Linked DNA regions of Homo sapiens: region 1 is linked to region 2. The links come from fine-mapping of genetic effects on gene expression. A gene starts in region 2. The other region holds a variant in brackets. All regions are shown on one strand. Distances are between the middles of the regions.

Region 1 (2,908 bases), 63 kb before region 2:
TGGCCCAAATATCAAGGTTTTGTTTTGTTTTTGAGATGGAGTTTCGCTCTTGTTGCCCAGGCTGGAGTGCAATGGCACAATCTCAGCTCACTGCAACCTCCACCTGTTCCAGGTTCAAGTGATTCTCCTGCCTCAGCCTCCCGAGTAGCTAGGATGACAGGCATGTGCCACCACGCCCAGCTAATTTTGTATTTTTTTAAGACGGGTTTCTCCATGTTGGTCAGGCTGGTTTCAAACTCTTGACCTCAGGTGATCCGCCCACCTTGGCCTCCCAAAGTGCTAGGATTATAGGCATTAATTTTGATTTGTATTGCCAAATTCCTATCCAGAGAACCACTTAATACCTGCTTATTTGTGTAAGAAAATGCACTGTTCTTTGTTTGTTTTTTGAGACGAAGTCTCACTCTTGTCCCCCAGTCTGGAGTGCAATGGCACGATCTCGGCTCACTGCAACCTCCACCTCCCAGGTTCAAGCGATTCTCCTGCCTCAGCCTCCCAAGTAGCTGGGATTACAGGTGCGTACCACCACACCCAGCTACTTTTTTGTATTTTAAGTAGAGATGGGGTTTCACCATGTTGGCCAGGCTGGTCTCAAACTCCTGACCTCAGGTGATCTGCTCGCCTTGGCCTCCCAAAGTGCTGGGATTACAGGAGTGAGCCACCGCGCCTGGCCTAAAATGCACTGTTCTTTGATTATTAATTTCTCATTCAAAATTCTAGATTAAGTTAAATTTCGTGGAGAGTATGATAGCTTTTTTTTTTTAACCATTATTTTGTAAAACCAAAATTTGGGAGAGAATGCGAGGAGAAATTAAAAAGATCACTGATATTACCTAAATGACCCTATTACTTAAAATGACCTTTTGAAGTAAGAGGAAATGAAACAAGTTACACTGAGTTCCTCCACTGATGATATGGGGAGGATGACACCTTTCCTGCCTGCCGTATAGGAACTGAATGGCTTAAAATTCTCTGGAGAAATGACTTCTTTCATGGCCAGGATCTTCAGAAGGGTACAATCTAGAGGGGAGAATTGGCCTTCCTTTCCCACAATGGTCAGGGGCCCTAGCTCTCAGCAGTTTGTTCGACTTGCTGGAAATGTGCAGCTGCTTCCTAGCGAATCTGCTAGCAAAAGGGAAGGAGACACCTGTGTTGTGTTGTGTGGTGTGGTGTGATGTGTATGTGTGTTTGTTGGGGGTGTTTAGCAGCAGACATAGTGGAGTTTGCTTTGGTTTTGTATTATTGTGGTGTGTGGGTAGGAACTACATTGTCAAAATCATTGAAGGACAGTAGGAACCAGATGAAATTAAATAAGGGGCCAGGCATGGTGGCTCATGCCTATAATCCCAGCACTTTGGGAGGCAGAGGCAGGATTACTTGAGCCCAGGAGTTTGAGATGAGCTTAGGCAACATGACAAGGCCCTGTCTCTACAAAAAATACAAAAATTAGCCAGGTGTGGTGGTACCTGCCTGTGGTCCCAGCTACTCAGGAGTCTGAGGAAGGAGGATCGCTTGAGCCTGGGAGGTTGAGGCTGTGGTAAACTGTGATTGTACCGCTGCACTCCAGCCTGGGCAACAGAATGAGGCTCTGTCTCAAAAAAAAAAAAAAAAAAAAAA[A/GAAAA]GAAAAGAAACAAGGAAGACGAAGAGTAGTGCATAGAAAATCTTTTAGTGTTGCAACCCATAAGTAAAGATAAGTCTTTTGACTTCATTTGAGTGTTTTGGGCTCTTTCCTTTGGGATTATATACCAGACCTATACTGCATATAAAGTTATTTGAAAATGAGCCACACACTGTAACATAGCCATGCTCTGGCTGTGGCCAATTAGACCATAACTAATCCCCACTGAGAAGCTTTTCTTTTTTTGTTTTGAGACAGGGTCTTGCTCTATCACCCAGATTTTGGAGTGCCGTGGTGTGATCATAGCTCACTGCAACCTCGAACTCCTTGGTTCAAGGGGTCCTCCTGCCTCAGCCTCCCAAGTAGCTGGAACTACAGGCACACAGCACTGTGCCTGGCTAATTTTTAATTTTTTAAATTTTTTTAGACAGTCTTGCTCTGTCGCCAGGCTGGAGTGCAGTGGCACGATCTCGGCTCACTGCAGCCTCCAACTCCTTGGTTCAAGTGATCTCCTGCCTCAGCCTCCTGAGTAGCTGGGATTACAGGCACACGCCACCACGGCCAGCTAATTTTTGTATTTTTAGTAGAGATGGGGTTTCACCATGTTGGCCAGGACAGTCTCGATTCTCCTGACCTCGTGATCCGCCCGCCTCGGCCTCCCAAAATGCTGGGATTACAGGTGTGGGCTACCGTGCCTAGCCTAATTTTTTTTATTTTTTGTAGAGATGGGGTCTCGCTAAGCCTTCCTAAGTACTGGGATTGCAGGCATGAGCCACTGTGCCCAGACCTGAGCTTTTCTTTAGTTTTTAACTCTTGTTTTTTTTGTGTGTGTGCGTTTTGTTTTTTCGACATGGAGTCTCACTCTGTCTTCCAGGCTGGAATGTGGTGGCACAATGGCAGTTCACCACGGCCTTGGCCTCCCAGGCTCAAGCAGTCCTCCCACCTCAGCCTCCTGAGTATCTGGGATTACAGGTGCATGCCACCACAACTGGCTATTTTTCTAATTTTTGTAGAGATGGAATCTCGCCATGTTGCCCAGGTTGGTCTCGAACTCCTGGGCTCAAACAGCAAGCAGTCCACCACCTTCAGCCTCCCAAAGCACTGGGATTACAGGTGTGAGTCACTGTGCTTAGGCAAGTTATTGTTTCTGTTTAGACCCCAGTAGTAAATATTTTAGGCTTTGCAGACCATGTGGTTGTAACTACTCACCTCTGCCATTGGAGAACAAAAGCAGCCATAGACAATACTTAAATGAATGGGCGTGGCTACGTTTTAGTAAAACCTGATTTACAAA
Region 2 (2,908 bases):
AGCCCACCCTCCACCACTGTGCTTCTTACTCAGTGGCACTTCCACCTCTGGCCAGGTCACTTCCAATGCTGGACACTGCTTAGCTGCTGGGAACACTGGGGGCTGGGAGGGGCAGGGGTCCTTTGTGCTTCTAACTGAGGCAGTGGCAGCTGTGGTGGTCTGCGAGACAGGTGTGGCTCTGACCAGGAGAGTGACGACGTGGGCACACAGGAGCAGGACCCACAAAGGGCTGAGGTCTGAGGAAAGGACAGTTACAGGTCAGCGGCTCTGGAGACAGAGTGGGCTGCCCGGGTAAGGATGTAACTCCAGCCCAGAGATGTCTGGGTTCTAGCCAGGGAATCAGAGCGGGAAGAGGGACCCCTCAGCACCCACCCCTTAGCCCTTTATTGAACAGAGTACAGAGAAGCTTTAGACTGGAGCCAGAGCTACAATATCTGCCCAGGTTCTTAAAGCAACAGCACCAGGTGCGCTGGGTGGTTTGCCTTGGAGTGAAGGCTCCGGGTTAGCCCATTGCTCCATTCTGTTCATAGACCTCACCCTACCCCGCCTGCCCATGCGTAGCCCCAAGGCCTACCTGGTGTCCAGTTGTGTCTCATGGTCATGATGCATGCGTCAGGAGCTGGTGAGCCTGGCTCTTTATCTGTGACAACGTCCTCTTCTCTGGTGAAAGGTGGGGGAGGAGAATGGTAAACCACTCCCGCTTTTTCTCAGTAGCTGGCTTTTCCTCAGTAGCTGGCTTCTCCTCCCGTAGCATAGCCTGGAGCTCTTTCAGCACTTAGAAACAGAGCTGGGGGGGTCAAGTGACAATCCTTCCCCACCCCAGCTCTCATGACCACAAATGGTTGTAAGATGCTTACCTAGTCCAATCTTACCCCTTCATTAGGGAAGGCAAAATTGAGACCCAAAGAGAGAATATGGACTCACCCAGTCACACAGGGAGGCAGTGCTCTCTTCAGCACCAGAGCTGCTTCTGGGAAGGGCAGGATGCCGAGCAATCCTTCTGGGAAAGCACTGCCCCGACCCTCTATTTCACTTTCACTTTTTAACCAGGGAATCTTGAGCAGCTGTGACACCTCTGCTTTAGCCAAAGTTCAGTGGCCAGAAACCTTCAGCTCCTGGGACTCCTACTCTCCAGAGGATACCAGACTGGGATCTCTAATCTACCCCCATGCCACCCCCAGGGTCACCTAGGGTATGAACTAGATGAGTCTCTCACAGATCAATTCTGTCCCGCCCAAGTGTCAGGACTTTGGTGTCCGCCTCCCCTCTTCACAGCCAGGTCTTTGTTTCCATATGAACAGGCATCTGCTTCCTCCTTCACCTTCACACTGACATTCAAGGGGACAACTTTCCTAGGCACTGGGGAACCCCAAGTTGGACCACTTCAGGCTCAATGCCATACCAGTCCGTCCACATCCTGGCCTTTCCCAGGCTACCCACTCCCCCAGCCACCAGCCCCAAGGTCGGCTACATCTCCCAGCACCCACCATCACACCCTCTGTCTCTCATCCTAGCCCCTCTGGCCAGAGCCACAGGTCTAGGTTCACTAGTAGTCCCAGACTCCTACCTGGCTCCTAAGAGGTCCTGAAGAGCCTTCCTTTCCAGAAGCTTCCCTCTAGGAGCTCCAAGACTCAAGTTAGCTGTGTCTAGCTGCGTGTGAACCCACCACAGGAAATACACCGAGAGCACTTCCTCCTTGTCTGTAGAACTCTCACGGCCAACCCAGGAACTGGCACACAAGCTCGAGAGCCAACCCTAACAGGAGGGAAGGGCAGGCACTTCCCGGGGAAGAGGCGGACTGGCTCAACACTGGCTCTGGCAACAGAGTCTACATCAGAATATGAATCTTGTCACTGATGGGACAAATGGCGCTGGGGCTGCGGGAGGGCCAGGATTCAGGGTGAGGCGTGTGAGGAACCTAGGATGCTAAATCTAAGGAGGTTTTCTCTCAGGGTCATGCAGTTATCCATGGAGGCAGAAAGACCAGGGCTGGGTGATCCAATGCATGCATATATTAAGTGTGGACAGGAGCTGCATGTCTGAGGTTTGTGACTCCTGTGATTGGGAGGGTGCAACGGCTGGTGACAGAGCCAGGGAGGCCCACAGATGGAACTGGGTTTGGTGGATGCATCAGGAACACAGTCAGCTGTGATCTCAAACTTCTTGTAGAAAAACCAGATTCATATTCCTAATTTAGACATAGGATACTACAAGTCACATCCTTCTTCTCTAGGTGTCTAGTTCATGTTTTTCCTCCTCTCAATTCCTCCCCCTACCTCCTGCCCCAGGGGCTTCTAGCATGTAAGATGCAGGAGAAATTCCTCCCAAGAACACCAGCATCTCCAGGAGTTAGGTCAGGAGGCAAGGCTGCCTGGGGTTTCTGAGAGAGACAGTCCAGTGGGGGATGGTAGGGAAAGATGACAGGACTCTGTCTTAGTGGAACCGAGACCAGAGTCAGGCCAAGGGGGGAGGTCAAGGGACTCAGAACTGTTACACATGAAAAGAGCTTTGGACAGCCTGGCCTCGGCTTCTCACCTGAGCCTGACAGGGGGGTGGGGGGAAAAAGTAAAAGGAAGGGTGATCCCTAGGTCCTCTGACCAGCCCCATTCCCCTCTCTGAGGAGGGGAACAGCCCCACAGGTGGCATAAGCAGCAGGGTACCATGGGAAGCCACAGCTGGGGAAGAGAAGCCGAGCCTGAGTGTGGTCCTCAGGAAGGCAGGTGGTGGCGGGACACTGTCCTCAGGCAGTGAGAACATAGAGCAACCTCAGTCTGAAGGCAGGCCCAATGATGCCCCAGGCCCCCAGGCCACAGGACAGGAGCCTGGCATTCCACCACTCCTAGGGATGTCAGCAGGGGAACAGCTGGGAACAGCAGAAAGGCAGGCCCAACCACCCCCAGACCCTCAG

What was found. PIP is the estimated chance that this variant, and not a neighbour inherited with it, causes the effect.
Region 1: its variant is the best candidate, but not a certain one, in a credible set for the expression of IL18BP in whole blood (INTERVAL, PIP 0.59).

What each region holds. Positions count from the first base shown.
Region 1 is chr11:72,060,196-72,063,103 of GRCh38, reverse strand. All of the region lies in intron 2 of NUMA1 (nuclear mitotic apparatus protein 1), which reads left to right. Among named protein-coding and RNA genes, the nearest start is that of MIR3165, 11 kb to the left of the region's middle. The variant A/GAAAA (reference allele first, on the strand shown) is at 1,618.
Region 2 is chr11:71,997,679-72,000,586 of GRCh38, reverse strand. IL18BP (interleukin 18 binding protein) reads right to left here and starts at 1,678. Exons shown (of 6, transcript NM_001039660.2): 1 at 1,568-1,678; 2 at 575-660; 3 at 30-236. The coding sequence starts at 602.